2 separate regions of the Homo sapiens genome follow, and region 2 is linked to region 1. Evidence: fine-mapped QTL for protein levels in blood plasma. Region 1 holds a variant in brackets. A gene starts in the other region. All regions are shown on their reverse strands.

Region 1 (5,329 bases):
TAGTTCGAATTCCCAGTTCACTAACACCAGCCCAGAGATCATGTCCTTATCAAAAGACGGAAAGAGGGAAAGTTCAAACCAACCTGGGAAGGACCTTATCTAATACTCCTAACCACTGAGATAGCAATCCAAAGGCCGAAAAAGGAGGGACCCACCCCTTGCAAAGTCATGGACTGTCACTCCAGGACCAACACCCTCCAAACCAATGTTCAAAAGGGTTTAGTCTGTCTTTTTTTTTAATTCCTTTAGTTACCAAAGAACATCTTATCATCAATGTAACCCGATCACCCTGCCCTCAAACGATCACATTCAATGCTTGCCTTGTCATGCCCTGTGGAGACCTTTAGAGTCAAAAACAGCTAGCTTCTTCAGAAAAGTACCTCTGCCCCTCCACCCGCTTCAGACAAATCAGAAACCCTTGTGATGGACAACCACGAGCCTTCCAGGGGTTATGTTATAATTGGGGAGATGTTATCTAGACCACCCAGTATCAGGGCTGGACCTCCTCAGAGGGTTGCACCGCCCTAAAACCTTACATCCACCTTACCAAAGGAGTCACACCCTCAAATTGCCAAAACCACCAGTTTTCCCAAAAGTCAGAAGCCCTACGGGACAGCCCCCAAGGGCCATTCGACTTCCAGCTCTTGATGCCAATTTTACCTCATGTCTCTCATGGCAAGGGGAAAATCTGACGTTCCTCGGAAACCTGATGGGATGTACTGGGCCTAAACCTTTCCAAGAGCTAACCAGTCAGTCAGCCCTAATCCATCCCCAAGCAGATGTACAGTGGTATTGTGGGGGACCAATATTGAGTACTCTGCCAAACAATTGGAGCAGCATTTGCACTCCGATCCAATTGGCCATCCCTTTCACCTTGGCATTTCAACAACCAGACAGGAAGCAGGTAACCCAAAGGAAAAGAGAAACCCCTCACGGGTCCTTTGACCTCTCATATTTACATAGACAGTATCGGGGTTGCGCTGGGGGGTACAAAATGAATTCAAAGCTCGAAACCAAATAGCCACCAGGTTTGAGTCTGTATTATTCTGGTGGTCCACTATAAACAAAAATGTAGACTGGATACATTATATATACTATAATCAACAGTGATTCATCAATTACACCAGAGATGCCATAAAAAGAATAGCTCAACAATTAGGCCCTACCAGCCAGATGGCCTGGGAAAACAGGATAGCCCTTGACATGATATTGGCCAAAAAAAGGCGGAGTCTGTGTCATGATTGGGGTCCAATGTTGCACTTTTATCCCCAATAACACAGCCCTGGACAGGACAATCACAAAAGCCTTACAAGCCTTACCACCCTAGCAAATGAATTAGCCGAGAACTCTGGAATAGATGACCCCTTTGCAGGTGTCATGGAGAAATGGTTTGGAAAATGGAAGGGACTCATGACCTAAATATTTACCTCCCTTGCAACAGTTACAGGTGTACTCATCCTTGTGGGCTGCTGTATCATACCTTGTATTCGTGGGTTAACCCAAAGGCTCATAGAAGCAGCTCTCACAAAAACCTCCCCCACCTCTCCCCATCCATAGTCAGATAAGCTCTTGCTCCTAGATGATAAAGAAGAACAACAAAGCCAACTCCTGTTAAATAAATTTGAAGGGGAAGAACTATAAAACAGAAGAGGGGAAATTGTTGGGACAACTAAGTTCCTCTTCAAAGATTCAACTTCCTGGCCATAACTTGGAAACAAATCCTACCCCTACAACCTTTTCAAAAATCACACCTTTACCTTATTTGGGAAGGTTTAAGCATTAGCCTGTCGGGGTCAGCTTAGATTATGCGGCCCAACCCCAGCCAATAGGGGAAGGACACAGAAACAGAAACTGCATTAGGGATAAAAACCCCTTCCCTCCTTTGTTCAGTGTGCTCTTGGGATTGTAACAGGCACAGGCAGCACCCTTCTACAGAAGTAAAAGTGACTTGCTGAGAAATTTTCTAAGTGCGGGTTTCTTTTCGCTACACCGAGCACTTGTTTCCAACACATGCAAACCAGAATGGAGGTCTCCCTGGACCTGGGTTTGGGCCACAAGCTTGCAAGACCTTGGGCAAGACTGTTCCCTCTTCTGAACCAAGTCCTTCCCTGGCCCAGCCGCTTGTGAGTAACACATCAGTTTCATGCTTACACCTCCTGGTCTTGTGAGTAACACATCGGTTTCATGCTTACACCTCCTGGTCTGACCGGGCTCTCCTTTGCAGAGCCTTTTATTCCTTCCCTTCCTCTGAACACTGGCTGGCTGCTTTCAGGGAAGAAGTTCAAGGCAGTGGCAGGGAGCTCCTTGCACATCGCCATGACAAATGTTTTATGGAAACAGTGAGCTGATGGGACGAGGGGTCGGGGCTAGAAAGTCAGCCAAAAGGTGTGAGAACCCGGACTAGCCCCCAGCCCTGAACATGGCAGGCCACTGTGCCATGGTAGGGGAGTGAAAGTTTCCCTCTGCTCCTCTTAGGGTTCCAGCTGGGGCTCCTTACAAAAGAGAAAAACAGTTCATTAATGCATGTAGTGCACCTCACTGAAGAAGCTTCAACAAAAAGCAACTCAGAACAGTGACTTAGAACTGGGTTATGGAGCAACTTCAACAAAGAATAATCAACGTGTGGGGAAATGACAGGACCCAGGAGAGCGGTTTTAGGCTTCCAAGTTTGGGAAACCGGCAAGGTGAGTATTGGGAGGAAACTAAGGCGGAAGTTTCATTCACAGAGCCCTAGGGTGCCTTCTTTCCTCTGGCTGATGCGTCTCTCTCCTATAATTTCCATCCTGCCTCAGACAGCAGAGGGACAGGGCAGAGAGAGATTTCCCTGCTTCTGCTGCATCTTAGTTGCCTTCAACTCAAGATAATTTCTGAGGCTCATTTTGGAGTGACATATTCTGGTGTCCTTCACGGTACAGGGCACAGCCTCAGAGGACCAGATCCACAGCTGATCACTGAGCTCTTCCATGTGCCAGGCCCGTCCAGGGAGAACACTCAGCCCCACAAACAGGGCAGGTGGCACCAGGATGCTGGGCGGCAGCCTAACCCTCAGCTCATGGGTGGGTGGAGTGGAGAGCACCCTCCCCATGTGGGGCTCCCTGGTCGTGGACCTGGAGACCACCAAGGCTCTGCAGTCTCAGAAGTGGCCTGTTGGAATGGGGTCTGCAGGCAGGGAAGCCTTGGGCCAGAGTCCCTCAGGGGCAGGAACACAGCCCCCAGGCTTGTCCCACTTGTCCCTCTGAATAGTTAAGGGCTGCCCACAGGGAACTTCCCTCCCTCCCTCCCTTCCTCCCTTCCTTCCTGCCTCCCTCCCTCCCTTCTTTCCCCTTTTCTTCTTTCATCCTCCCCTTTCTTCCTTCCTTACTGTGGTAAAATACACATAACATGAAATTTACCATCTCAACTATTTAAACACGCACAGTTCCATGGTGTTGAGTTCACTCACATCGTTGTACAGCCATCACCAGCATCCATCTACAACACTCTTTTCATCTTCCCAGACTGAAACTCAACACCGTTCACAGCTCCCCATTCCCGCCTTCCCCAGGCGCCCACCATTCTCCTCTCTATTTCTACGAATTTGATGACTCCAGTCCCTCAGATATGTGGAATTGTGGCTGGGCGCGGTGGTTCACATCTGTAATCCCAGCACTTTCAGAGGCCAAGGCAGGCAAATCACCTTAGGTCAGGAGTTCTAGAACAGCCTGGCCAACATGGTGAAACCCAGTCTCTACTAAAAATACAAAAATAAGCCGGGCATGGTGGCACACATCTGTGGTGCCAGCTACTCAGGAGGCTGAGGCGGGAGAATCGCTTGAACCTGGGAGGCAGAGGTTGCAGTGAGCTGAGATCTCACCACTGCACTCCAGCCTGGGAGAGAGAGCGAGACTCTGCCAAAAAAAAAAAAAAAAAGTTAATAGAATCGCATGGCATTTTTCCTTGTTGGACTGGATTTTACTTAGCATAAGGCATCAAGGCTCACCCACGCTGTAGCAGGTGTCAGCGTCTCCTCCCTTTCTAGGGCTGAGAAACATTCCATCTAGAGACAGACTCACTCCGTGCAGCCATGACGCCTTGGTGAACACCACGGCTGCTTCCAGCTTTTGGCTATGGTGAGTTCCGTTGCTAGGAACACAGATGTGCACATGTCTCTTCCAGACC[C/T]CCTTTCAATTCCTTGGGTGTATACACAAAAGCAGGATTGCCAGCTCATACGGTAATAATATTTTTATTTTTATTTTTATTTTTTGAGAAGGAGTCTTGCTATGTTGCCCAGGCTGGAGTGCAGTGGTGCGATTTTGGTTCACTGCAACCTCCACCTCCCAAGTTCAAGCGATTCTCCTGCCTCAGCGTCCCAAGTAGCTGGGGTTACAGACTCGAGCCACCACGACCGGCTAATTTTTGTATTTTTAGTGGAGATGGAGGATTCACCATGTTGGCCAGGCTGGTCTCGAACTTCTGACCTCAAGTGATCCGCCCGCCTCGGCCTCTGAAAGTGCTAGGATTGTAGGCATGAGCCACCGCGCCCGGCCTCGTACGGTAATTCTGTGTGATGTTTAGGGACACGTCTCGGAGCTGGCGAACTGGACTTGGGGTGGGAGGGAAAGGAAGCATTAAAGATGCCCCCAGCTTTCACGGAGATGAGAACGGTGCCCCGGGAGGGCGGGACGGGATCAGGGTCCTGTGAACGGGGTATCAGTGTAAACTCCTCTGAGAGATATCAGGAAAAGCAGGAAGAAGCCTCTGGGACCCTTCGGGAGGTAACTCCTCTTCGCAGCGGGGCGCGCTCTCCCAGTCCCTGCAGCCGCCGCCGCCCTCTCCTGAGCTTCCTCGAGCGGACGCCAGGCAAGGGCGGGGGTCGTAGCGGGGCGGAGCGGGGCTTTGTCCACGGACCGCGCGAAGAGGCCTCAGGGCCCGGCGCGGGCGCCGGAGGGGGACTCGCTCGCAGGGGGAACGCGAAGGTTCCTCAGTCTGCGGGACGCAGAGCTCCGTGGGGCCGCGAGCCGGGGCCGGGGAAGCGACTCTGCCTAGGGGGACGTCGCGGGCGCGGGGCACAGGGTCCTGCGGGGCTGGAGGGCTACAGGCTGCGGCGCGCGCGAGCCGGAAGGCCGGGGATCGTGGGTTCTGGGGCCGCAGCTTCACGGGTTCGTCTCCCCCGCCTCCCCGGGGGAGCAGGATGTCAGGGGGTCGCCCCCGCCCGGGAGACAGGGTGTCAAGGGGCCCCCGGGGACGGGGCTTCAGGGGCACCCGGAGCCGCTCGGCCCCAGGGCGGGATGCGGGGACAGGGCCCCAAGGTACCAGGGCCACGAGGGGCGCGCGGGTCCCTTGGGGATGC
Region 2 (5,364 bases), not on the chromosome of region 1:
CAAATCAGTGATTTTCTCATTCTGATGCCTGTTGGTTGATTGATGCTTATTTATTTTTGTAATAACTAGAGAGCTTATAATCAGTGAGATGGCTTTTATTTCTGTTATTTGAGTCTGGGGTTATGGAGTTGGGTACTAGTTCAGGGAGGATATAAATAAAATGAGAATGTTTTGAGTGTAGCACCTGTTCTCCCCAGGCAGCATCTATAGTCAGAGGCCTGAGGAAATCCTCTTGAGTTTGCTCTTCTTTGGAACTTAGAATTCTGATCCTAATGGCTGAGGCAGTCTTGACCATCTTTTAGCCATAATCCCATAGTATTCATTGCTAAATGCTGTAGGAAGAAGGATTATTACCAGGAATTCTTCATGGCATCTCTAAAACGTTGCCACTGACGAGTCCCAAAACTAACATTATGCTCCATGCATTTTTTTTCTGCATCTTCCCATTGTTATTAGTTGCTCAGCTGGAGCAGAACATTTGGGGAACATTTCGTGAGGATGTTTTAGACCTACCAAACATTACCGAGAATGGGACATTGCTAGACCCACTATGAGCAGCATGGAGAAGATAGCAAAGGCTGGATCCAATAGATGTTTTCATCATTTGCCTTGGGATGGGTGGGGGTAGAGGACAAAGATGAGCATTGGGAAATGGAGGTTTACCAAGAAAGTAGCTTGCTGATACTGGATCTCCAGTCTCTTTGGCCAGAACAGTCTAGAAAAGAAGATAGCAGGATGTCAGATAACTATGAGCACTGCCGAAAATAAGAAATGGAATATTTAGACCTTAATGAAGCCTTATAACTGATTCAAGGGGGACAGAGAAAGTATATTCAAATGTAAAGGTAAATATTAGGAATTACTTTCGGAATCTAACATGAGATGTGATTGGAAGAAACACTAATGACCTGCAAGTCTCTAACATATGAAACTATGAACTAGCTCTTGCACACGTTTATGTAAGCAGTTCCCAGGTCGCACATAGATCATCTGTGTCAGCATTCATGATTTACACCAGGGTGGAGAGCAGTCCACCCTAAAATGCATCTTGGTGAAAACTTTCACAAAGTAATGGAGCTGCTCTGCTAACTTCTACGACTTGACTGCCCTCAGGGTCAGAAGAAAGAAATAGCTGAAATAGGAGACAGGAGACAGTGAGGACAATTCTTTACGGTCAAAGAATCTTGAAGAGACTGCCCCTGTGTCACATGGAGACATTCACTGACTACAAATCATTGGTTGCAGCTTTACTTCCCATGTCACAAGTCATTTGGGATCTGAATTCTGAAGGAAAAGTTAGCTACAGGGAATGAATGTTGAGGCTACACCTTATGTAGCACTTGATCAGGATAAGCACAGCCTGTGTGATTAGATACTTGGTGTTTCTGGGTTAGAACCAAAAGACTTTGTACTTCCTCTCTTGGAAGGAGTTACTTATTTGGGGTGACTTGTCTGGAAACAAAGGAGGGGTGTTTACAAGAGATGGTTTGCAATGCAGACTAAAGCCAAGAAAAATTTGAGTGTGATGGAATAGGAAAACCAAACCAACAGCCCCCAACCCCACCACACAATCTGCTTGGCCAAGTCCAAGTTTGTAGCTCCCTACACAAGAGTGTGAGACTGGCAGGTATCTCTTCCTGTTGTCTGTGCCTCCACTGAGCTGCCAAGTACTAGATTCTAGGGTTTGCATGAGCAGTTTTGTGTTTGCATAGGCATTTCTCAAAGCCACTGCATGGCAGGTATTTGAAGAGGAGCCAGGCAGGTCACACTAGAAAGAAGCAGCTGAGAGGGCATATGGGGCACTGTATAGAAAAAGATCTTGTGTGAAGTGTGGGCCCAGGGACTACACTCTGTTAAAACAGCAAAACTATGTGCAGTAAATGGAATCCCGCAGGCCTGGCTGCTTTTCTTCCCAGACAGCTCTGCCCGCAGAGCGGGCAGCGTCAGGAATTCGTTGTTATGCTTTCTTCCCTCACTGACCTTTGCTGGGTGGTTGAGCTGTGCTGGGATGTTTGAAGCATTTTTTTTTTTTTTTTTTTTTTTTTTTTTTGGCTGTTGGACAGAAAAGCAAGAACAGGTGCGTGCCTTTCTGTAAGGGAGCGGCGGCCGCCAGAGGGCGCAGAGGTGCCTTTTGACCGAATGGCGCGGGAAGGGGGGCGTAAAATTCAATTCACAGCGACCAAGATCTAGTCTCGGGAATTAAAGGATCAGAGCGCGCCTGAGCCTTTCGCTGCGGGGATGGGAGGCACTGAAGATTTGGGGGATAAAGAAGAAACGGAGGGACTGTCCTGTCTTCCTTCCCGCAGCCGCCCCTCCTCCCCAGTCAGCATCAGGCCCGTACGCCGCTCATTTCAGGGGCTAAGCTGGGAGCAGCACGCACGTTGCCTCAGTTTCCTGCTCAGCTCCCGGGACTACCTTGTGCCAACCTTCCCTGCTCGGAGTATGAGGCACAGGCCGGGGTAATCCTCCAGCCTGGGCTGGGGTCTGCTGAACTCGCGGAGCGCTTTTTCCTGCCCGCGGGTGAAGATTCCCCGCTGGCGCGTCCCGGGGCGCCCTGGGCTCCCGCGCGACCTCTGCCGTCGCCCTCGCTGCCGCGCTCCGGTGGCCGCGCAGCCCCCGCCTCCAGGAAAGCCACAGATTCCCGCTGTGCCAGGGAGCCCGCGCGGCCGGCGCTCCGGCCTCTCCCTGCAGCTGGAAAACGCTGCTCCCCTCTTCCTCCTTCAGGAAGACCGCCCTGATTGGGCCGGGGATGCGGCACCCCCAAGTTTGGAGCCAGAGCCCAGGAGCGTTTACATGTCAGGTGTTACGGGTGGTTCTGACTTCGGATAGTCCCCAAATTTCCCACCCTTCCTGGTCACCCTTCCTATCCCACCCCGGCGGAAGGGAAGGTTACGGCTCAGGATAGTTCTGGAGCCTCCTCTTCCCCCTCTACTCGTACCTGGCTGGCTCGTGGGGCATCAGAGCTTACCTCACCCCTCCCTGCGTCCAGACCTGGAGGAGGCCGCAGGGTCCCGCCGTCCGCGCGCTGGGGGCGCCCCCGGGCGGCGGACCCCGCGCGCCCCGCCCGGGAGGACGGCGACCTCTCCGCCCCCTCGAATGCCCCGCCCCGCTGTCGCCGTCGGTCCCCACCCCGCCACCGGCACACAGGCGCGCAGACTTGGGCTGGAGCCGCCCTGGGTGTCAGCGGCTCGGCTCCCGCGCACGCTCCGGCCGTCGCGCAGCCTCGGCACCTGCAGGTCCGTGCGTCCCGCGGCTGGCGCCCCTGACTCCGTCCCGGCCAGGGAGGGCCATGATTTCCCTCCCGGGGCCCCTGGTGACCAACTTGCTGCGGTTTTTGTTCCTGGGGCTGAGTGCCCTCGGTGAGTGAAACCCGGACCTGGAGGGGACTTGGGATGCGGGATGGGGTGAGTTCGACCCTGAGGGAGAACTTTGGCCACTGCTGCGGAACTGGGTCCCACGACTCGCCCTCCTCCCCTGACCTCCTAATCCCACTCCAGGGCATCACTGGCTGGCGCTGACTTCTCGCTTTGTCGGGGACAGCCCCCAGTTTGGGTGTGGGGGCGGATGGCGGGGGGAGGTAAGGGCATCTCTCGGAAGACCTGGATACCTCTGGGGTGAGTTATCGGAACCATTCCTCACCCTGTCCACTCCCCACCCCCCACCCAGCAGAGCCGGATGAGCTGAGCCGCTAGATGAGACACTGGCTAAAGAGCTTAAGGACTTAACTCTAGCCCCCTCTCATCCCCGACCCCACATACAAGCTGATGAGGAAGATCCCCCGGGGAAATACCCCTGGTCCCCAGGCTTGACACACGCACTTCGTGTCAATTCCCCAGCGCAGATGCTCTCTCTTGCCCCCTCCTGCTTCCTGCCCTGGGAATCAAGGGAGGTGCCCCAAAAGGACGACCGTGAGGTCATTTGGGACACAGGAAATGGGGGAGGGGTTCAAACGCACAGAGAAACAGAATTGTGACCACCCCACCCCCCCAAGGCCCACCACCCTTATTGGTTTCCAGAGCCAAAGGGAAGAGGGGAAATTGGGAGGAGGGTGGCCAAGGGTCAGAGAGGAAGGGAACCTCCTTGGAGCAAGTGTTTGGGAAGTGTTGTAGGCCTCCAGGGGCGCTGGCTTCAGCTGAAGCTGGGGTGGCTCAGAACTCCATCTGGGAGAGGACCCGGCAGGACTAGGCCCTTTTAAACTATTTCACTTGCTGTCCCTCAGCTTTCTTGCCATCTCCCTTCAAGGATCTCGAATGGGAGTGAAGGGTGGGTTTAGCTATATTGACTTTAACTCATTTCTCAGGTTGGAGGATGTCAGGACAAGTAAGGCCTGGGAAGCTGTAGAGTGAAATTCTACAATGATGGGGACAGAGATGAGGATCACCAGTGTCCCCTTTAGCATGTTCTGTGCCCCACAGGTGTCGGGGCATGCAATATTATAGTCCTTGGACAAAATGAGTCTCAAGTACAGCCCCCCAGGCCACACCAAGGCCACAAGTAGCCTTCTGTCCCTCTGGGCTTGGTGGGCCTGCTCCAGGATCCCTCAGACTTCTCATCCCGCCTTTCCCAACTTCAACTTCAGCTCTGTTCCTTCTGCATTCCACCCCAACTCTATCCCCCTTCCTTGTGGGGGGTGGGGGCTGGGGGAATCTCTGAAGCCAGGGAGGACAGTTCAAGTTGACTGCCTGAGTGTCCCAGGCTTCACCTGCTGCTCATCTGCAACCCTTTGTCCTACCCCAGCTTTGAGCCTCAGTTTGTCAGACTGAAGACCTGGACTCAAAAGTTCCAATCGGTCCCCCTGGGGGGTTGCCCAGTTCCCGCCAGCCACTCGAGGGTTAAATGGCACTGGTGACCCCGGTGCAACGTGCAGGCGCCCGGCTCCGCTCTTCTGGGCTCTGGAGGAGGCTCTCCGGCTCAGTAGGCTCCTCGGCGGCTCAGTGCTGCTGCCCCTGGGGCGTGAGAAGCCCGCGGGGGGAGTTTCTCAGAGAAAGAGGGAGACTAAAAATAGCCCCGGGGAGCGGGCCCATTTCGCTCTCCTTCGGCCCCTGCCGGCTCCCTCACTCTGGCCTCGGAGAGGGCTGTGGGCCGGAAGGGTCCCTTTCTTGGGCTGTCCCAGTGTCCTTCGATCAGACCCAACCAGACTCCTTTTCTCTCCCAGTGGCTCCGTGGACCCTGGGACCGAAAAAAACGGACCAGTTGGTGACTTCCGAGCCAGCAGACACCCAGGAGGGAGAGCAGAAAAGCCTCAGGCCCTCTTCTGTTCCTAGTTTCTGACAGGGCGAAGGGCAAGGAGCATGTGCCCAGACCCCAGTGTGTCCGTTACTATCTCTTTTAACTCTCCTCTACCTTCTGGAAAGTGGAATTATA

Which allele goes with the higher level. Alleles are on the strand shown, and positions count from the first base shown. The strength of an association depends on the size of the effect and on how common the allele is.
As copies of C replace T in region 1, the plasma level of the protein whose gene starts at base 3,154 in region 2 goes down (strong association).

Evidence for each region. PIP is the posterior inclusion probability: the model's chance that the variant is causal. The UK Biobank Pharma Proteomics Project read protein levels with antibody pairs (Olink). The fine-mapping took linkage between variants from a reference panel, not from the people measured, so its PIPs are less certain.
Region 2: it holds the start of ESAM, and the variant in region 1 is fine-mapped to the plasma level of the ESAM protein (UK Biobank, PIP above 0.99).

What each region holds. Positions count from the first base shown.
Region 1 is chr9:133,275,387-133,280,715 of GRCh38, reverse strand. No RefSeq gene overlaps it. Among named protein-coding and RNA genes, the nearest start is that of SURF6, 58 kb to the left of the region's middle. RefSeq lists enhancers at 1,816-1,838, 1,760-1,912, 1,709-2,278, promoters at 4,663-4,874, 4,663-5,194, a cis regulatory region at 5,272-5,316 and a silencer at 5,161-5,329. The variant C/T (reference allele first, on the strand shown) is at 4,159.
Region 2 is chr11:124,760,080-124,765,443 of GRCh38, reverse strand. It overlaps ESAM (endothelial cell adhesion molecule), which reads left to right and starts at 3,154. Exons shown (of 7, transcript NM_138961.3): 1 at 3,154-3,359. The coding sequence starts at 3,290. ESAM-AS1 (ESAM antisense RNA 1) reads right to left here. Exons shown (of 2, transcript NR_120577.1): 2 at 1-715. RefSeq lists silencers at 2,366-2,415, 2,956-3,365 and an enhancer at 3,096-3,599.